Regions from separate parts of the Homo sapiens genome. Here all the other regions are reported to be linked to region 4. Evidence: microRNA targets listed by miRTarBase, many of them from high-throughput screens and not tested one by one. Region 4 holds a microRNA gene; each other region holds the end of a gene's coding sequence.
What was found. The annotated mature microRNA hsa-miR-4465 reads CUCAAGUAGUCUGACCAGGGGA and lies in region 4 at 2,350-2,371, opposite strand. An mRNA with a match to its seed (bases 2 to 7 or 8) in the 3' UTR can be bound and repressed. Matches are read on the target gene's strand: a 7mer-m8 pairs with bases 2 to 8, a 7mer-A1 pairs with bases 2 to 7 and ends in A, and an 8mer does both.

Region 1: the mRNA of UQCR11 is a reported target of hsa-miR-4465. Seed matches in the 3' UTR shown: 7mer-A1 at 3,479-3,485.
Region 2: the mRNA of KLHL15 is a reported target of hsa-miR-4465. Seed matches in the 3' UTR shown: 7mer-A1 at 2,608-2,614.
Region 3: miRTarBase lists ETF1 as a target of hsa-miR-4465. Seed matches in the 3' UTR shown: 7mer-A1 at 2,634-2,640 and 7mer-A1 at 2,963-2,969.

What each region holds. Positions count from the first base shown.
Region 1 is chr19:1,594,737-1,600,751 of GRCh38, reverse strand. UQCR11 (ubiquinol-cytochrome c reductase, complex III subunit XI) reads left to right here. Exons shown (of 3, transcript NM_006830.4): 2 at 1,192-1,340; 3 at 2,537-3,583. The coding sequence ends at 1,312. Among named protein-coding and RNA genes, the nearest start is that of MBD3, 4.9 kb to the right of the region's middle.
Region 2 is chrX:23,984,198-23,988,197 of GRCh38, reverse strand. It overlaps KLHL15 (kelch like family member 15), which reads left to right. Exons shown (of 4, transcript NM_030624.3): 4 at 1-4,000. The coding sequence ends at 277. Among named protein-coding and RNA genes, the nearest start is that of KLHL15, 41 kb to the left of the region's middle.
Region 3 is chr5:138,503,689-138,509,703 of GRCh38, reverse strand. It overlaps ETF1 (eukaryotic translation termination factor 1), which reads left to right. Exons shown (of 11, transcript NM_004730.4): 10 at 888-1,035; 11 at 1,317-3,609. The coding sequence ends at 1,399. Among named protein-coding and RNA genes, the nearest start is that of ETF1, 37 kb to the left of the region's middle.
Region 4 is chr6:140,680,211-140,686,225 of GRCh38, reverse strand. MIR4465 (microRNA 4465) reads right to left here and starts at 2,412; the gene lies at 2,343-2,412. All of the region lies in intron 4 of LOC105378027 (a long non-coding RNA gene), which reads right to left.

The sequences.
Region 1 (6,015 bases), not on the chromosome of region 4:
CTGGCATGTGCCACCACACCCGGCTAATTTTTCTTAATTTTGTGTAGAGATGGGGTCTCACTCTGTTGTCTAGGCTGGTCTCAAACTCCTAGGCTCAAGTGAGCCTCCTGCCTCAACCTCCCAAAGTGCTGGGATTCCCCTTGTGAGCCTCCATGTCTGAAGCCAGTCTTTTGTCACTTGACCTCGGCAGTGATGCCCCATTGCTCATGCTGCGTTCTACTCATTAGAAGCCTGTGCCCGGCCGGGCGCGGTGGCTCACGCCTGTAATCCCAGCACTTTGGGAGGCCGAGGCGGGCGGATCACGAGGTCAGGAGATTGAGACCATCCTGGCTAACACGGTGAAACCCCATCTCTACTAAAAATGCAAAAAATTAGCCAGGCGCAGTGACGGGCGCCTGTAGTCCCAGCTACTCGGGAGGCTGAGGCAGGAGAATTGCTTGAACCCGGGAGGTGGAGATTGCAGTGAGCCGAGATCACGCCACTGCACTCCAGCTTGGTGACAGAGCAAGACTCCGTCTCAAAAAAAAAAAAAAAAAAAAAAAGAAGCCTGTGCCCAAGTTCATACTGTGCGAGGGCGTAAACGCCAGCAGGCGGGTTTGCTGGGCCTTCCTAGAATCTGCTGGGCCTTCCTAGAATCTGCTGGGCCTTCCTAGAATCTGCTGGGCCCAGGCAACTCAGGGGAGCTCTCACAGCACGTGCCGTGGTGGGCAAGAGCATGAGCTTGGAACCGGAGGCCTCGATCCTCGCCAGCTGTGTGGCCTCAGGTGAGGGCCTCGCCCTGTCTGTTGTTTGGTGTCCTCGCCTGGGAACAGGGACTGTGATGGCGGCACCTGCCTGAGTCCTGCAGCTGTGGCAGGGATGGATGAATTTCTGCAGACTGCAGCAGACCGGACCCATCATCATGGTGGTTGCAAACTTACAAACACCTACACATGCGCCAGGCCCAGCCTCCCCCCAGCTCCACTCCCACCCCAGCAGCCCCTTGAGCAGTTACTGGCTTCCTGAGAGCCGGCAGCATGGGCAGGGCCTGTGCTGCTGGTGCCAGCCCTCAGGGCTCACAGCACTGGGCGGGCACAGGTGCCAGGCCCGCACCTCAGCCATCACCGCTCAGGACGGGGGGCCGGGGTGGGCAGGAGAGGGTCTTGGAGAAAGGGTCCAGAGCAGGCCTGACCATCCCCTCTCCTCTCGCAGGGTCCCGACGGCCTACACATGGGGCGCTGTGGGCGCCGTGGGGCTGGTGTGGGCCACCGATTGGCGGCTGATCCTGGACTGGGTACCTTACATCAATGGCAAGTTTAAGAAGGATAATTAATTACACAAACCCTTCACAGACTGCTCTGGTAAGTTTCAGTGGGCTGCGGTGGGTGGACTGCATGATGGCCGGATGGTGGCCGAAGAGTGGGTTCTCCAGGCTCCCAGAGCCGGGGCGGCAGCCCTCACTGCTCCCCCTGGAGAGACCTGCATTCGAGAGTGGGGCCCTGGGTGCCCCTTCTGGCATCTCCGGCCCACGGGCACAGAACTGTCCGCCCCGCAGCCTTGGGTTGTGTGATTGGGGTGTGGGCCTCGCCCTCCCTCTGGACAATCCCAGTGAGTCTTTGAGGCAAACCTTGCTTCCGTCTCAGTGGGCACTGCAGCCTGAACTGGGTGGGGCCCATGTTACAGACAGAGGGGGAAGGTGGAGGCTGGCCCACAGTGGCTGGACACCCCATGAGCTCTTGGAAGCGCCTGTGAGGCCCTGGACGCATCCACGTGTTTCTCCAGCATGCCAGCTGCCCCCTTAACCACAGTGCCTGTGGCATCTTCCCAGTGCCCACATGACAGTCCCACGTGGCCGTGCTCTTACACCCCCATTTTCCAGGTGCTGGCCTGAGGCCTGAGGCCATGCCACTGTTTGAACCTGGGCCTCAGAGCCCTGCTCCGGTCTGTGTTTCTCCCTACTGCGTGGAGCCCGGGGCCTGTGCTGCATTGGTGTTCCTGCCAGGCTGCTGTCCTGGGCCACTTCCGCAGCCAGCTTCATATGGAAGGGACGTTTCTTTTTTTTTGAGACGGAGTCTCGCTCTGTTGCCAGACTGGAATACGGTGGCGCGATCTCAGCTCACTGCACCCTCTGCCTTCCAGGTTCAAGCGATTCTTGTGCCTCAGCCTCCCAAGTAGCTGGGACTACAGGTGCCCACCACTACACGCAGCTAATTTTTTTTTTTTTTTTTGAGACAGAGTTTGGCTCTTGTTGCCCAGGCTGGAGCGCAATGACGCGATCTTGGCGCACTGCAACCTCCACCTCCCGGGTTCAAGCGATTCTCCTGCCTCAGCCTCCCAAGGAGCTGGGATTACAGGCATCTGCCACCACACCAGGCTAATTCTGTATTTTTAGCAGAGATGGGGTTTCTCCATGTTAATCAAGCTGGTCTCAAACTCCTGACCTCAGGTGATGCGCCCGCCTCGGCCTCCCAAAGTGCTGGGATTAGAGGCGTGAGCCACTGCACCCAGCCTGGAAGGGACACTTCTACTCACCCTGCCTCGTCTGCTCTCCCTCCAGGTGCCTGGTGGTGCTAGCTCCTCCCACCTCAGCACCTGCTGCATCTGGAGCAGCCCAAGCCTCAGGATGGACAAGAGGAAACCCACAGCTCAGCTTCAGGCTTCTTATGTTTCTGAAAACAGCTTGGATATTTTAATGCACGTTGCATTAAACCTCACTGAAACCTGCTCCGTGCCCGGATGTTGATCATGCTGGTGGCTTGGTTACTGTGACTGTAGCTGGAGTGGCACAGGTGACCCAGGCGTCCTTTCAGCTCCAGAATGTTGCAAGTCTAGGAGAGTGTTCCAATGGCTGACAGAAACTGCCTATTTGAAATGGCTCATAAGTAGTATCTGCAGTGTGTTCATCCGTTGCTGCCTTAACAAGTCACCCACACGTAGTGGCTTAAAGCAACGAACATTCACTCTCTCACAGTCTGTGTCAGTCGGGGATTTGGGAGTGATGTATCTGGGTGGTTGTGGCCCAGAGTCTCTCATGAGGTTGCAGTTAAGACATCAGCCAAGGCCACTTCGTCTGAGGAAGGCTCAACTGGGGCTGGAGCCACTTCCAAGCCAGTGCCCTCACGTGGCTGTCGGTGACAGCCACAGTTCCTTCCCATGGGGGCCCCTACACGAAGCTGCTTGAGCATCCTCACGGCATGGCCTCTGCCTTCCCCAGAGCAGGTGAACCAAGGGAGAGGAAGGAGCAAGCCACAGTGCTTCTATGAGCCACCCTGAGAAGTCTCACGTGATCACTTCCGCCACAGCCTGTTTATCAAAAGCAAGCCCCCCAGGCCCAGCCCACGTGCAGAGGGAGGAGAATGAGGTTCTGTGTTTTGAAGGGAAGAATATCAGAATTGGTAGACATTTCAAACTGTCACATTAGGGATACAAAAATGAACAGGCTGGGAGTGGTGGCTCAGCCTACAATCCCAACACTTTGGGAGGCTGAGGAAGGGGCATCACTTGAACCAGGAGTTCAGTACTAACCTGGGCAACAAAGAGGCCCCTGTCTCTGATAAAAAGAAAAAAAATGAAAAAATAAAAATGAACAGGTATAAAAAGAGAATATGGTACAAAGTCACACTCCCTGATACAGCTGCCCAGTTTTTTCCAGCTCTTGCCAATCTCTGAGCCGACATTGCACCACTGCACTCTAGCTTGGGCAACAGAGTGAGACTCAAAAAAAAAAAAAAATCCTAGACATACTGTCTGCATACATAAGTGTGTTGATGGAAATAGCTATTATATCAGTCTGCTAGGGCTGCCATAACAAAATACCACAGATTTTGCATGGCTCAACCAACAGAAATTTATTTTACTTATTCTTTTTTAAAAGACAGTCTTGCTCTATCGCCCAGGCTGGAGTGCCGTGGCACGCTCTTGGCTCACTGCAACCTCCGCCTCCTGGGTTCAAGCGATTCTCCTGCCTCAGCCTCCCAAAGTGCTGGGATTAACAGCTGTGAGCCACTGCACCAAGCCTATTTATTTATTTATTTTTGGAGATGGAATCTTACTGTGTCACCCAGGTTGGAGTGCAGTGGCATGATCTTGGCTCACTGCAACCTCTGCCTTCAGGGTTCAAGCGATTCTTCTGCCTCAGCCTCCCGAGTAGCTGGGATTACAGGTGCCTGCCACCACGCCCTGCTAATTTTTGTATTTTTAGTAGAGATGGGGTTTTGCCATGTTGGCCAGGCTAGTCTTGAAATGACCTCAGGTGATCTGCCCACCTCAGCCTCCCAAAGTGCTGGGATTACAGGCGGGAGCCACTGTGCCCGGCCAGATTTTGTTCTGATTTTTAAAAAAACATTGGCCAGGGGTCTGTGCGTGGTGGCTCACGCACCACTGCACTCCAGTCTGGGTGACAGAGCCAGACTCTGTCTCAAAAAATATATAAAAATTTAAAAAAAAAAATTGTCTGCAGGCTAAGTGTAGTGGCCCACACCTGTAATCCCAGTACTTTGGGAGGCCACAGTGAGAGGATTGCTGGAGCCCAGAAGTTTGAGGCTGTGGTGAGCCGTGATTGTGCCACTGCACTCCAGACTGGGTGGCAGAGTGAGACCCTGTCTCAAAAAAGAAATTGTGTGACTTGAGCCCTGAATCTGTAGGTTACCAGACCCCAGTAGCAGTGAGCTTCCCCTGCCTATTTCTGTATCTGCTGTCCTGGTACTTAAGTCCCGAAAGGGAAGGCAGAGACTTCAGCATGGTGGCACTGAGGCCCTCGCCAGCCCAGGAGGTGACAGGAGCCAGACTGGCGGATGGGGTCCTGTGTTTGTTGCCACAGTGAGTCACTGGACTCCACTGTAAAGAGGAGCAGTCTCGTGGTCCCATCAGCCATTTATTCAGTCATTTATTTCTACCAGCATCCACTCGAGGACATTTTTTCTTTTTCCTTTTTTTTTTTTTTGAGACAGAGTCTCGATCTGTCGCCCAGGCTGGAGTGCAGTGGCGCGATCTCAGCTCACTGCAACCTCTGCCTCCCAGGTTCAAGCGATTCTCCTGCCTCAGCCTCCCGAGTAGCTGGGACTACAGGCGCCCGCCACCAAGCCCAGCTAATTTTTTGTATTTTTTAGTAGACACGGGGTTTCACCGTGTTAGCCAGGATGGTCTCTATCTCCTGACCTCATGATCCACCCGCCTTGGCCTCCCAAAGTGCTGGGATTACAGGCATGAGCCACCACACCCGGCCTTGATGACATTTTTTCTACAGACTATAAATCCTTTATAAACTTTAATTTTGTTGCTCAAGTTGTCCTCTCTGTTTGGCCATCGTGACCCCTTCCAAATGGGCTCCTGTGTGCACATGATATGTCCCGGGTCACTTTTTTTGTTATTGAGGTGAAATTCACATAACATAAAATTAACCATTTTCAGGTGTGCAATGCAGTGCTTTAATACATTCACACTGGTATGCAGCCACTGCGCCCAGCCTGGAATTGGCCATTTTAAAGACTATTTTATTGACTTACTTATTTTAGACAAGGTCTCGCTCTACCACCCAGGCTGGAGTGCATTGTCACAATCATAGCCCAATTTTAAAAATAATCTTGGCCGGGCGCGGTGGCTCACGCCTATAATCCCAGGACTCTGGGAGGCCAAGGCAGGCGGATCACCTGAGGTCGGGAGTTTGAGACCAGCCTGACCAACATGGAGAAACCCCGTCTCCACTAAAAATACAAAATTAGCCGGGCATGGTGGCGGGTGCCACCATAATAATCATCTCCCTTGCATGGGGGCAGGCCTTGCACTGGCTGCCCTAGTCAAGTAATCCCAGCTACTTGGAAGGCTGAGGCAGGAGAATCGCTTGAACTCGGGAGGCGGAGGCTGCAGTGAGCCGAGATCGCGCCGCTGCACTCCAGCCTGAGCAACAAGAGCGAAACTCCGTCTCAAAAAAAACACAAATAATTAAATTAAAAAAATAATAATAATCTCCCAGCCGGGCGTGGTGGCTGGCGCCTGTGATCCCAGCACTTTGGGAGGCTGAGGCAGGCACATTGCTTG
Region 2 (4,000 bases), not on the chromosome of region 4:
AGTATACAACCCAGAGACTGATCAGTGGACCATCTTGGCATCCATGCCGATTGGTAGAAGTGGCCATGGTGTGACTGTGCTGGACAAACAAATAATGGTTCTTGGAGGCCTTTGTTATAATGGTCATTACAGCGATTCCATCCTCACTTTTGATCCGGATGAAAACAAGTGGAAGGAAGATGAGTACCCTCGGATGCCCTGCAAGCTGGATGGTTTACAAGTATGCAACCTGCATTTTCCGGACTATGTACTGGATGAGGTCAGGCGTTGCAACTAATGACATCCTCCTCCCTAAAAAAAGAGGCAAACAAAGTATTTGTTTGCACAGAGTAATTAATTAAAACATATAAAGAAAAACCTCACCAGTTTTACTATCAAAGCCATTGGTCTAACATTGTAAGAATTTTTCATTCTGTGCTAGCATCCTTTTTTTCTTTTCAGTGGCCTCAAACTCATGCAATAAGTTAATTCTAAGTGCTAGCTCTTGAAACTACTTCCAGAAGCAGTTGAATAGAATGCTCCACTTATCTGGGATATTGATTTTCTGCTTTAAACATTTCTTTCAGATGTTAGCGTAGGAGTCATGTGTCTTCTAAGAGAAGACCCGATAAGTGTCACTGGATGTGATTTCAGTCTCTGTCTCTATCTGAAACCTTTTTGAAGATTTATTTCAGTGTATTTCAGTCTGTTATACTTTTTAGTTTTATTATTTAAAAGTTTAAAACTCTTGACCTTTTTGCATGGCTTTTTGCTGAAAATGCAAAAATATAAATTTTCTACAAAATTAACTTTTTATATTCAAAACACTATTTCTAAGCTGCCTTCTCTTATCCGCATTGTGTTAGTGAAAGCATATTCATACTCGCATACAACCTATAAATACACAAGGCACATCCCTTTTATGCGTGGTTAGGATTCTATATTTTTAAGCTAGTGCACTTACTTGCACACACAGTTCGCCATACTTGTTGAATTTTAGATGTAACGTCTTTTCACATATTAACATTTTTAGAAAGTTGAAATAACTGGAGTCCTCATTTGCTATCAAAGTAGCCTATCTTCAGTCCATACTGATTCAGTAATATTTGAACTCCTTATATTTCTGAAACATGTATGGTTATGAAAACTAACACTTTATATTTTATTTTCAAAAGTAAATGTTAGTGTTCTTTGTCGATGTATGTCTTTTCTTTTTGAAAATGTTTTTCTTTGCAGTCTGTTTAACGTTACCCTGTTTTTAGTGAGAATCGGAGTGGTATATGACAAGTTCTGGCCCTGCAGCATGCAAGCACTTTTAAAGAGCATTTAGGTAATACCAGACTCCTAAATCAAGGCCCCTTAAAAGTAAGTGCAACTCCCATTTTTTACATTCAGTAAGGCTGCTGCATTTGTTATTGAATGGAAGGTAGAAACTCTTAGAAAATTTGACCTCAGTTTTGACTTAGAGGTAAGAAATAGAATTATAATGTTACTGGTTTTATCTACTTGTTTATTTTGTACAAAATACCCAGCGACACTAGGGATGTAAGCCCTCAGTTTTTGTTTTATTTACTGAAAGCTATTAGCATGAAGGATAGTAACCACAAAGTTCAGAATGGATCAAGAATAGCTGTTTAAAAGCATTTATAATAAGTGTTTTAGGATTAGCTGCACCTTTCAACTCTTTAAATGCAGAGGAAAAAACATAGTTGACAAAGTTAAGCAAGAATAACCTGGGAGTGGATCATTGAAATTGATGCCATTTGCGCATGAGTAGTCTATATCTGATACAGACTAGATCTATACTGGCAAAACTTGCCAGATCTTAGAATATTGGTGCAATATTGCAATGCCTTCTATATGGCTGCTGATGTATAAATTTTCTAGTTTCACTTTGTTTGGTGTTTTTTGTTTTTTTGTTTGTTTGTTTGTTTTTTTGCTGCTGCCACCATTGAACATAAAATGGAAGTGTGAAGTCATGGAAATGTGAAGACTTTGGTTTTTGGGGGTTTTTTGGGCAGTTATTAGACATACTATGAGATTAAACCTGATCTTCAAACTCCAGAATTGGAGGCATTTGGGTTTAAGAAACCAGGTACATAAGTAGCTTTTGAAAAAACCATTGGCATTGATTTCAAAAATCAATAATAATCTTATTTTATATATGAGACTTATATTTTCATTAACTAGTCCTGTCATTTACTTACAGTTTCCAAACATGAAATTTGGTATCTTGTTTCCCATGGTAATATGGGTAAAAGTCTTTTTCTACATTTAAAAAATACATTATTTTATTTTTGAAAGTTAGGAATAAGTTAGCCATTTAATTTTTTTCTACATTAGTTTAGTGGCTTTGTATGTGTGCTATTTTGCTTTAAAGAAAATAACGTCTTCATTATTTTCCTCATTGATGTCTTTTGCTAGAAAAGACCAAGAAAGAGCCATCAGGCCAGGTATCCACATCAAAGCCTTTACACTATAGTGGTGGTTCTCTTTAATTGCTTAGATATGACTTCATGACCCTAGTCAGGGTGACATCTGGGCAAACATTTGAGTATTCTTGGTCTTCCATTTTAAAGACAGAGGCCAAGATCAAAGTTCATGTTTTGTAAAATTCGTAAAATCTTAACTTGAACTAACTCTGGGTTCAGCTTTACGTAAGTCACGTCGGACCTGATGTTAGCTGTAATCAGTTTTGAGCTTTAAGGATAGTTGCTGTTGCTTGGGTTCTGAATGTATGAGAAAACTCCCTGTTTATATGTAGTTCTAATTTAGGTTATTTTAAATCCATGATTAACTTACATTCCCTTTTAAAATTATGGTTTTATTGCTGCAAGAGATTTATTTTTGTTATACTAAACTATGGAAAAGTTTTTCATAGCATTTTTTTCAAGTTTATTTTTTGTGTGCTTCATTTGGAGTTTTTGTTTATATACATTGCGCTCAAAAAAGTAGTTTTTTGAAAAATTCAGTAAGATTTGAATCTATACAGTTTAACTGTTATGACCTTTATGCGTGTTGTTTTCACTTTATATCTCAAATGCCAGAGTTCACAAAAATAGCTGATCTTCATTAATTACATCTTAATTAGAACCATTTGTTCTCTTCCGTGTCTTTGACCTTCTAAGTTTTGATTTTAAAGAAATTCCTTGCACTACAGCCTTTTCTTAAAATGCAAGATTCTCACTTTGAAGGTTTTGTGTTGGAAGAAATGCTACTGGTTTTTAAAAAGCAAAGCTTAACTAATAGAATTATTAGCTTTTCTTGAGACAGCTTTCTGTGTCCTCATTACTCTGCTCTGTGTGAGTGTTACTAGAATTTGTGAAATACTGACTGAGCCCTTCACTTATCTTTTCTAAAGCAGCACCTTTGGACACCTCATTCTGGGAAGCCTGCTCGAGTCATAGTAAAGGACACACGCTTTATGTGGGGAGAAGTGGTAAAAATGGAGTTTTGTCTTAATTACATGAAACTAAGCTTTAAAATATTTTATAACAGATTATTTGAGCTGCATAATCTAAACATGTCAAACGTTCAGTGGGACTATTTTTATATATGTATATGTGGGTGTAGGTCATAACATTTCAGTTTATAATATAAATTGTTATTTCAGTTTATAAGCTATCTCTCAGAGGAGACTAGCTCTTTTGAGAATTCATAATTTAAAGTTTTAGACTGAAGTAAAATGCAACATAGATAATAGTGTAAATCAGATATAATTGAGGGCTATATGGCAGTAAAACTGCTAGTGCCAGTTTTCTTGTTTGCCTGTTATACATTTTTGATTTTTGTTTTTGTATTCTGAACATTTTGAGAGATCATATGTTTGTTCAATTACATTTAGAGTTGGTTTGGGAATAAATATCTTCTAAAAAGAGATTTATCTTAAAAATGGAAGTCCTAAAAATTAGTTTATCCAGAGTTTATAAAGTCAAATATTCAGTAGGCATAGACTGGAATAGATAAATTCATGGAAATCATATCCTTTCAGTACACCGTATAACTTCAATATTACACAAGT
Region 3 (6,015 bases), not on the chromosome of region 4:
AGGCTGGTCTCGAACTCCTGACCTCAGGTGATCCACCTGCCTTAGCCTCCCAAAATGCTGGGATTACAGGCGTGAGCCACCATGCCAGGCAGCCTAATTTTTTTTATAGAAATGGGGTCTTGCTGTGTTCACCAGGCTGGTCTTGAACTCCTGGGCCCAAGTGATCCTCCTACATTGGTTTTCCAGAGTGGTGAGATTACAGACGTGACCCACCATGCCTGGCCTGGTTTTTGTTTGTTTGTTTGTTTTTGTCTTTGTTTTTAAGTAGTTAAGCAATCAGGAAAACATTTCATTATCCTTGAAATTTAATAGGGAGGAAAATGTAATTTACATAATGCCTCTCCTGCACTGTGAAACCTGTGCTGCTTTCTTCACTTGATCAGCTCTTCCACTGCAGTGGCTTCTCTGGTTTGCTCTAAGTGCATCACAACAGTTGAAAGTATGACCCTCCCGTATGAGATAGGTTTAAATGATAGCTTCCTCAAATTCTGGTTTGGAGAGCTTTGTTCTCTACGAGGCCACTCCCAAAAGCAGTCCTGGAATGTCTCTTCTGAGCCATTGAATGGGTGCTGCTTAGAGACACTACAACAGCCTGACTTCTAGAGTCAACAGTAGGAATCATAAGCTGAATACCCACTGAGTTTTTGTGTTGGTATTTCATAGCTGAGGGTAGAGCCTGAGGAGAAGTGTTGTTTGAAATAATCCGAATTTCTCTGCTGATATCCATTAGGTTATCAAAACCAGAGATGACTTACAGAGCTTTACACACAGACATGCCTATAAATGGGAGGATGAGAGTGATAGGTGGGCAAGGGGCTGTGAGAGGGACTAATTAGCCTTCATATATCCTAATCCCCCATTTTTGTATCTCATGGTCATCCCTGTAGACCGGACAGGAACATGAGCTTATCGAGAGCATGCCCCTGTTGGAATGGTTTGCTAACAACTATAAAAAATTTGGAGCTACGTTGGAAATTGTCACAGATAAATCACAAGAAGGGTCTCAGTTTGTGAAAGGATTTGGTGGAATTGGAGGTGAGTAGCAAATCAGCAAACCAAACTTAAAACCAGGGTCTCAGGTCAAGGTCCCTCCTGGCTAGCCCTAGCCCTGCTTCCGGTGAGGTGCTTATTATCTGCTGGGATAGGTGATTGACGCAGCAGGTGCAGGTTCCTAATTTGGACCCATGTTTATTATTACCTCTTTGCTTTCTGCAATTCTGCAAGAGAATAGGGCTTCCCTTATTCCCTTACCAGCCACCTACACACATGCCCATCCCATGAACACAGGTAATTTACCTTTTGGTTTGTTTCCCCAGGTATCTTGCGGTACCGAGTAGATTTCCAGGGAATGGAATACCAAGGAGGAGACGATGAATTTTTTGACCTTGATGACTACTAGGTAGTCGACATGGGTCCGGCAAAACGTGCCTCACCCTCCAGCATCCAACCCAAGGAGCATACCCATGGTGGAATCCAAACAGATCCCTGCCTTACAATTGGAACATTTCCAGAACTTAATCCATGAGCATTGGATATTGAAAAGAAAACCGAAACAAAACCAGACCCAGCCCTACACTTTGGTTTGTCATGGTGTCAGCGCAGCAGCCTACAACTAAGTTCCTAAACGCCACTTTGGACTAATTTAAAAAAGAATCCCAGTTTTTACTTTTACTGGATGGTGAAATTGGTTGCTCTTGTATTTTATGAAAAAAAATGATTTTTTTAACCTTCATACATAGAAGCAAAAATACTTTAACTGCTGTAAACCTTCAAAAGTTAATAGAAGTGAGATCATACTGGTTTGTTTCTTATTTTGATTGGAGAAAAATTAAATTGCTGCATTTCGCAGTGACCCATTTACATGGCATTCTCAGCTTAGACTGCGTAAGAAGAAATATATGTGGTGAAATGTTGGAACCATTTCTCTCTTGGTCTCTGTTTAATGTTGAAAGGGTGAGCTAATAGGAGGCACTTTCAACTTCACTCCCTCACGCTACCCCGTCCCCCTCCAGACTGGCAGTTTCAAGGATGCAAATTGCATTGCAAAATCAAACTGACTCATGAAGCATTTGGGCCAGTGCACTGTTTACTTCCATCTGTTTGCAGACACATTTGTGCCCGGCGTTTGGGAGCCCTTTGTATCAATGTTCTGACAAGGGTCCCTATAACCTTAACCTACTCGAAACCGGTTTGGGATGGATATGATGGGGCTTCTGTGCTATTGCTGGGATTGGGAGAAATAAAACATGCAATTTAAGTGGAAGCGAAGAAATTTAAAGAGGATTTTATTTTGCTTGGGTCAATCCTTGTTAAAAGGGAGGTGGATGTGTTTTCCTTGTGTTGGATGGCATGAGATTATGTGAATGTTTTGATTTATTAAAATGAACTGCAAGGTTTTTCACAGGAACGACAGACATGTATGACTGCATGTAATTATAAACTCCTGACCTCCTGGTGGGGTTGGAGCATCTGTTTCAAATGTGGGACTTACAAGCACTTCTCACATGAGAAATTAGGGGCGGGTGGGAAGGGATGGGACACAGCTTCTGGCACCATGGATTTAAGACCATGTTGGATCCAAAAGTTGGCCTGAAACCCTGAAGCTTATGCTTCACAGCTGGGCTGTAAGTCAGACTTGAACCCAGCTGATATGCAAGGTCATGGCGTGCCCAGGGTGGTGACAGTTGAACAAAGTGTATAGTACGTGCCCAGTGGTAGCGATGGAAAAAAGTATACCAAATGGACTTTGAAGGACCAAAGGTTTTAAAAGTCAATTGGTATCACCTCCACACTGACTAGGGTAGTGGGGTGCATTTGGTTTTCAAATTGGGTACTTTTAACACTTTAGTGCCTGACTGCTGTTCTTTACTGACTTGATTCAGTCACTCGTAGCTTTATTGGTCTGAACCAGCTCCTTGTTCCCAGGTTACAGACCTGCCTATCGTTCCAATAATCCTGTTTCACTTGAATGAAGGGAGTATGTCTTAAATGTAAAGTTTCTGGTTCTCACACTGTACTCTGAGGTCCAAATACTGTCTGTCAATGTGTAACCTGATGTCTCAACCCCCTGTGAGAAGAGTCCATTATTTGGTGTTCACCAACGTGGGAGACTTCACCGGAACAGGCTTTTTTGCTTTGGGCTCTGCTATTTGTTTGCAGAACACCCAAGAGCGAGCAAACATGCTCTCTTCACAGCAGTACCTTAGGGTTTTGCCATTGTAAATGGGTCTGATGTGATATGACAAGACCAGAGAAATTGGATGTAAATTTACATTTTTGAATATGCTTGTTGTTTCACATGATACATTTAGGGTATGCAGCTCCTTTTGTAGTTTTTATTTTTACTATTTAAGTTTGGAAATGATGCCAAATTTTTGTATTTCTTTAATCAATGTGTTCTCTTCGGTGATATATATTGCATTATATATTGATGTGTGTATCAATATATATTGATATGTATTACACTTACACATACAAACACATATAAGAGGGGGTGAAAACCGTAGCCTTTGCATTCTCTATAGCCTCTGCAGAGAGATACTAAGCAGCAAAATCTTGGTGTTGTGATGTACAGAAATGGAGAAGAGTATTAAACCATATTTAAGAATATACTTTGTGTGCTTGAGATTTTTTAGGACTGGTCTAGAAAGGCCTGAACTGTGGAGACAGTTCTCCAAGGCATACCTCAGATTAGTCACGGCCAATAGCATTTCAGCCTTGGGTTTGAGTTGTGTTTACTACATTTGTCTATGGAAAGGTATATGCAAAGTTTTTCTGAGGTCATGATCCCAGAGTTATGCTAGAAGAAGAAGGTTCAGGTTGCTGGGGCCAAACTAATTTGTATTCTCCCCCATTCTATATGCATGCCAAAGGGAATCTTGCTTTTTTTTTTTTTTAAGGTATGTTAAGTATATTATCCCATAACCCAGCATCCCATGGAGGTAGATGGTGTACCCAATTTTACAGGTGATGAAACAGAACAAAAGAAGGTTAAGTAGCAGCTCTTTAGTGATAACACCAAAATTTTATCCCAGGCCTTATTCCAAAGTTCTCTCTGTATCTGTCTTTGAGTCCTATAATAGAATGGTCCAGATGGAATAGCAGAAACTAGGCCTGGGCCCTCTCTCTCTCCCACGCTCCTTCATCTTACATACCTTACACTGGGTAGGAGAGTAGTAGCCCACCCAAAAGCAGGTCAGGGGCTGGTCCAGAGGAGCAGGGCTCCTAGGCCAGGTTCAGAGCAGAAGAGGATTTGTTTTCTTTGTTTTCCCCCAAGGTTGAGGTGCTTAAAGAGCCTCTTTGGTAGTTTAGGAAGCCTAGTTGAGGAGCCAAGGTGGTGCATGGTTTGCTTTCTCCAGGTTTGAGAAAACTGTTTTAAGTAAAATTGACCAGTAATGGCACTTGGCGTACTTTTCACCCATTTTCTTACCTGATCTAGGTGATAGCTCTGACGACGAAACTCAATTACCAGCTGGGAAGGGGCGAACATGCCTGTGCTGGTGGAAGTGTAATTTTCCCTCCTAATGCGTGTCTAGGTGCTGTTCTTGAAGACAAAATTGTTGGAAGGCAGCACAGTGGTGCAGGATATATGGGCTGTGGTCCTTGCCTGTCTGGGCCTGCAGCACTTGCCATCTTTTGTTCTCTGGCTCCAAGACGCATGCCATGACACTCCCAGACAGGCACGGTGGATTTAGGGCTGAGAGCCAAGGTGGAATTTAAGTTTCATGCCAGCTTCTCCTTTGTTGCCAGCTTGAGTGAATGCCAGGGGATTCCTGCCTGCCAAGTCCAGCCCTGATGGGACTGGGTCTCAGGGGACCTAGGAACTGAACAGCCAAGTGGTGTGGGAGCATCCGATTAGAGCTAGGGAAGCAGGGCACAGTTACTTGCTTGTTTTGTGGCAGTTTGGGTGCTGCAAGTTGCTGAGGATGTGGCTGAATAGCAGGCACTAGAAATAACAGGTGAAAACAATTCACCACCTAAAGGGTTCTCTGTAAATCAAGTCTAAAACCCTGTCTGGTGAATTCTGTTTCAGATACAGCCATCTCCAGGAGTCCTTCCCTGAAACTGGCAGGCTTACCTGGGGCTTAGCTAAGAGCCCAGAACCAAACAAGGGAGTCAAGAAAAGCTCTGGTTCTGCTGGGCACCATGGCTCACGCCTGTAAACCCAACACTTCAGGAGGCCAAGGCAGGTGGATCACCCGAGGTCAGGAGTTCAAGACCAGCCTGACCAACATGGTGAAACCCCGTCTCTACTGAAATTACAAAAACTAGCCGAACAGGTGGTGGGCGCCTGTAATCCCAGCTACTCAGGAGGCTGAGGCACAAGAATTGCTTGAACCTGGGAGGCAGAGGTTGCAGTGAGACGAGATGGCACCACTGCACTCCAGCCTGGGCGACAGAGAGACTGTCTCGAAAAAAAGAAAAAAAGGCTCTGGCTCTGCAGTTAACTGGGTTTGTGACTTCACAGTATCAGGCAGTCCCTGAATCTGAAGTGCCGTGCCAGCCAGCTTCCCAGGAAGCTATCAGGAGAGTGCAGTAGGAAGCAGGATCTCTGAGGTCTGAGGTAGAAATCCTGGCGCCACCTGAGAGGCTGGCAAATTATTCCATGTCTTTGAGTAGCAGTTTCACCACCTGTAATAAGGATTAAATGGAGTAAGGCACATGAAGGCACTTAGCAAGGACTGGGATGGCAGCTACTCATGGTTCTTCCTCTCCCAACCTTGGTCCTCTGGAAGTGGCCAGGGAAAGTTTGTGCTGGTGACCACAAGGTGGTGGTATAGAGTTAAGGATGCTGACTGGAAGAAATTTGCTTCATCTGAAGTAGGGGGGATTTCTGACAAGCATTAAGAGGTGCCTGGGACAACTTGCTTTGCCCTTAAATTTTAGGAAAGTGGAGAGGGCAGTTTAACAAAGGAGTAGGGATGAGTGAACGGAGAGGAGATCCCAGGAGTCTCAATCCAGCTCTGCCCAGTTTTCTTACTCCTTATTCTGGGCTTTGAGCTATCCGTCTGTGAA
Region 4 (6,015 bases):
TTTTATTTTTACCCAAGTAATCTTTTCTTTAATCTGTAAGACTACTATGATGGATTACTATGATATCCTTTTAGCTAGAAAGAAATCTAAGTTGGAACGGTATTAAATTTATTATAAGTAAAATAAAAATGAGCATTCTTCTCTGCATTAATTTTTATTGGAAAGTTCATGTTCTATCATTAATACATCTTTACTAAATACAACATTTATTGAGTATTCATAGAGTGAATATTATTCTATCATTTACTCTAAAATTTGATCAGGAATGGTGGCTCACACCTGTAATCCTAGCACTTTGGGAGGCTGAAGTGGGAGGATCTCTTGAGGCCAGGAGTTTGAGACCAGCTTGGGCAATATAGTGAGGCCTCATCTCTACAAAAATAAAATAAAATGAATTAAAATTAAGTAAAATAAAATAAAATTCATGGAGGTTTGTGGTTTTTTACTTCTTTTGGTTGTGATTGTATGCATATATATAAATAAATATACATATAACATTCAAAGACTTTACAGTTTATTGAAAATCAGAGGGATAAAACAGAGGCAATACAACAATGCAGCGTAATTAGAATTATAGAATATAGAGCTTACAAATAACTTAAGGCTCCATCTGGTCATTATCTATAGTAACATTTCCAGAGAACTGAAATCAAAGTAGATGTAACTACACAATGGTAAAACTGTTCCAGTGCATGTCATAGGATAAATACTCCAGAAAACTTTAATGAACAAATGAATTGTTCACTACCTACTTAGCAAATAAATTCAGATCTCCTCTAAGTCTTAAGCTTCATTTTTTTTCCTCAAATGAATATATTTTTTAAATATTTAAGATCCATTCAATTTACTTTGGATTGTGTAACTGTTGGGAAATGACCTAAGTTGATATTTCCTGTGTAAAACAGTAACACTCTCATTTTTATTTGGATCTACCTTGAGCCATAAATAATATTGGAATCTGGAGAAATCCTGAATGACTTAGCATTTTACAACTTTTTTGTTTTTCTCTTAATTGAACTAGAACATGAAAAAGTGCCAAGGAGTGTATATAAAAGAAAGAATTATCACTCTTACGATTTCTGGAGATTGACTTCTTAGTTTTAAGAGAATTTTGAATTTTCTACATTTATTTTGATAATCTTACACCCATATATATGAGCATACCAAAGATTGTTTGTATGACCAATTTATACCCATGTCCCACTGCTTTACTGAAGTCCTGGAGTTTGCATTTGCATTGGCCCCAAGTAAAGGACAAATTACATCATGGCAAGCTGTACAAATAAAGCTTTTACAGCCATTTACATAAGGCATAGTAGGGGGGAAATTGTCACCAAATAGCACATGGTCTTTCAACTCTGAAGAACTCAACAGAACCTGTACTGTAGCAGTCAGTGTCATAATTATTTCACTGGCAGATGTGTTGTATAGATTTAATTTTGAACAAGTAATGATGATACTAAATATATAATAAAGGACTTCATACTCCAAAATTTTTTTGCCTTTTATGAATATGATTGAATTGATTGGATCTTCAAAATAATTCCCTGATAGTTAAAATTTTGAGTTTTTTAAAGGCAAAAATAAAGGCAACGATAACTACTATAATTTAAATAAGGGTCAAAATAAGAATGACAAAAGTGAGAAAGTATTGCTTCATAGTTTTAATTTCATTGGTAATTGTATTTTTTTATAAAAATTATAATCTATGGCATATTAAATTAATGTTGTTAATTTGAATTTTAGTGATTTGGTAGGAAGCTTTAGTATTTTATTTGAAAATGAAATTTAATAGATTTCAGAGCTATAAGTAAAATAAGTTTATATCTTATTTTACATAAAAATTTTATTTTATACAATTATATCAAAACATATATAAGTTTTGTTGGTATGTTTTTAGCTGATATTATAAAAATTGATACTTAGAATTAAAGTGTACTTATCATTAATTATTTTTTAGCTGAAAATGGTCCATAGATTAAGGAAGTTGAAAAAACACTGGGAGAGTCCTCATTATGGTTGCTTTAAATGTAGACCGACATTTGCTCTTTTGTGTTTCCTGCTGTTTCTTTTTTTTTTCATAATTAGTAGCAATAAAATGCCATAAATATTTTTAACAATGTGTATGTTCATTTCAGGGTTAAAAGAGAAAAGTAGAGTAAATAATACTTCCTTCTTTTTTGCAAGAGGTTTAAGGGGACCTATTTAGTGGCACAGGTAGTATCCATAGAAGCGAAATAAGCAAGTTATATGCTATTGAAACTAAAAACAAACCAAACAAGAGATACATGCCCCACTTGTGACGGAAATATGCTTGTGGGAATGCAATCAATGAAAAGCTCTCATGTGTCCCCTGGTCAGACTACTTGAGGTTCCATAGTAAACCTCAAATAGCGTGCCAGGGGACACATGAGAGCTTGGGCTAGACCAGAGCAGGGCTGTCTAAGAAACGAACTTGACAAATTCAACTGTAACATCCTTTGTAGGCAGCACTACCAACCGTGGTACCTCCTGGACATCTCTCCAGCATAAGGAGCAAGGCAAGCCCTCTTTTCTCAAGGCTTTTATTCTCTCAGCCACGCCTTCACCCCCATTCCCTTCCCAACCCCACACACATAGAACAAAACTTAAAAGAACAAAAATTGCATCCTCTTCTAGAAATGGTAAAACTAGAGAATTTTTTCTGGATGCAGTTTGTTAAATTCAACATATTTTGCTAGATAACGATTTTACCTCTTTAATTAACACAGATAAATGATCTATTACTATTGCTTTCTTCTAGGCTTGTGCCATATGTGTAATATTAGACACTATATCTAATAACAATAAAATGTCGGAAGGGTTGCATGTTTGTCTTGCTATTAGAGATTTTGTCTAATATTACATACATATATATGTGTGTATGTAATTATATATAGAGAGAATATATATTTATATAGATAACATATATCTATAGAGATATATAGAGAACATATATCTCTATATCTATAGAGATATGTAGAGAACATATATCTCTATATCGATAGAGATATGTAGAGAACATATATCTCTATATCGATAGAGATATGTAGAGAACATATATCTCTATATCGATAGAGATATGTAGAGAACATATATCTCTATATCGATAGAGATATGTAGAGAACATATATCTCTATATCGATAGAGATATGTAGAGAACATATATCTCTATATCGATAGAGATATGTAGAGAACATATATCTCTATATCGATAGAGATATGTAGAGAACATATATCTCTATATCGATAGAGATATGTAGAGAACATATATCTCTATATCGATAGAGATATGTAGAGAACATATATCTCTATATCGATAGAGATATGTAGAGAACATATATCTCTATATCGATAGAGATATGTAGAGAACATATATCTCTATATCGATAGAGATATGTAGAGAACATATAGCTCTATATCGATAGAGATATGTAGAGAACATATAGCTCTATATCGATAGAGATATGTAGAGAACATATAGCTCTATATCGATAGAGATATGTAGAGAACATATAGCTCTATATCGATAGAGATATGTAGAGAACATATAGCTCTATATCGATAGAGATATGTAGAGAACATATAGCTCTATATCGATAGAGATATGTAGAGAACATATAGCTCTATATCGATAGAGATATGTAGAGAACATATAGCTCTATATCTATAGAGATATGTAGAGAACATATAGCTCTATATCTATAGAGATATGTAGAGAACATATAGCTCTATATCTATAGAGATATGTAGAGAACATATAGCTCTATATCTATAGAGATATGTAGAGAACATATAGCTCTATATCTATAGAGATATGTAGAGAACATATAGCTCTATATCTATAGAGATATGTAGAGAACATATAGCTCTATATCTATAGAGATATGTAGAGAACATATATCTCTATATCTATAGAGATATGTAGAGAACATATATCTCTATATCTATAGAGATATGTAGAGAACATATATCTCTATATCTATAGAGATATGTAGAGAACATATATCTCTATATCTATAGAGATATGTAGAGAACATATATCTCTATATCTATAGAGATATGTAGAGAACATATATCTCTATATCTATAGAGATATGTAGAGAACATATATCTCTATATCTATAGAGATATGTAGAGAACATATATCTCTATATCTATAGAGATATGTAGAGAACATATATCTCTATAGATATAGAGATATGTAGAGAACATATATCTCTATAGATATAGAGATATGTAGAGAACATATATCTCTATAGATATAGAGATATGTAGAGAACATATATCTCTATAGATATAGAGATATGTAGAGAACATATATCTCTATAGATATAGAGTTATGTAGAGAACATATATCTCTATAGATATAGAGATATGTAGAGAACATATATCTCTATAGATATAGAGATATGTAGAGAACATATATCTCTACAGATATAGAGAGATATATAGAGAACATATATCTCTACAGATATAGAGAGATATATAGAGAACATATATCTCTACAGATATAGAGAGATATATAGAGAACATATATCTCTACAGATATAGAGAGATATATAGAGAACATATATCTCTACAGATATAGAGAGATATATAGAGAATATATATCTCTACAGATATAGAGAGATATATAGAGAATATATATCTCTACAGATATAGAGAGATATAGAGAATATATATCTCTACAGATATAGAGATATATATAGAGAATATATATCTCTACAGATATAGAGATATATATAGAGAATATATATCTCTACAGATATAGAGATATATATAGAGAATATATATCTCTATAGATATAGAGATATATATAGAGAATATATATCTCTATAGATATAGAGATATATATAGAGAATATATATCTCTATATCTATAGAGATAGATGTAGAGAATATATATTCTCTATATCTATAGAGATAGATGTAGAGAATATATATTCTCTATATCTATAGAGATAGATGTAGAGAATATATATTCTCTATATCTATAGAGATAGATGTAGAGAATATATATTCTCTATATCTATAGAGATAGATGTAGAGAATATATATTCTCTATATCTATAGAGATAGATGTAGAGAATATATATTCTCTATATCTATAGAGATAGATGTAGAGAATATATATTCTCTATATCTATAGAGATATATAGAGAATATATATTTTCTATATCTATAGAGATATATAGAGAATATATATTCTCTATATCTATAGAGATATATAGAGAATATATATTCTCTATATCTATAGAGATATAGAGAATATATATCTATATAGAGAGATATATGTGTGTAATATTAGACACTATAATAATAATAAAATGTCTGAAGCGTTGTGTGTGTATTATTAGATATTATATCTGTATCTCTATATAGATACACCTATATATACACATATACACACATACACAGACACACACATACACACATATATATATTTTATTTAGATATATATAGAGAGAGAGACAGAGAGAGAAGGTTAAAAATAAATAGAAGTATTAAAATTTTTCAGGAGAAAGATTTAAAGAAATGTAATCCTAGACTAAAAGAGAGTATCATGGCCTCACTGATACTACTATTATTTCAAAATAAGCTAATCTTTTATGTGTAACTATGATGTCTGACTGTTTTATACTGAAGTAATACATCTAATACTGATGACACATATGTGTGTATGACTCTGTCATATTTATCTTTTCAATTTCTGTCTCATTTTATGCCTGACATATGGAGAAGTTGAGAATAGTTAAGTCGCCAATAAAAAATACAAAAAAAAAAAAGAAACATTTTAAAAATAGGGAATGTATGGCTTTGTGACCTAGAAAAAATAAAGCCTTTATAAAAGGACCGTTTGAGGTATGCATGGGACTTTGACAGATAAGTATGAGATGAAGGAATTCCACATAGAAGGAACATGGACAAAATCAGAGATGGCAACGTATAGAATATTCTTTATATTTATAAATTAAACAGTTGAACTACAGAGTAG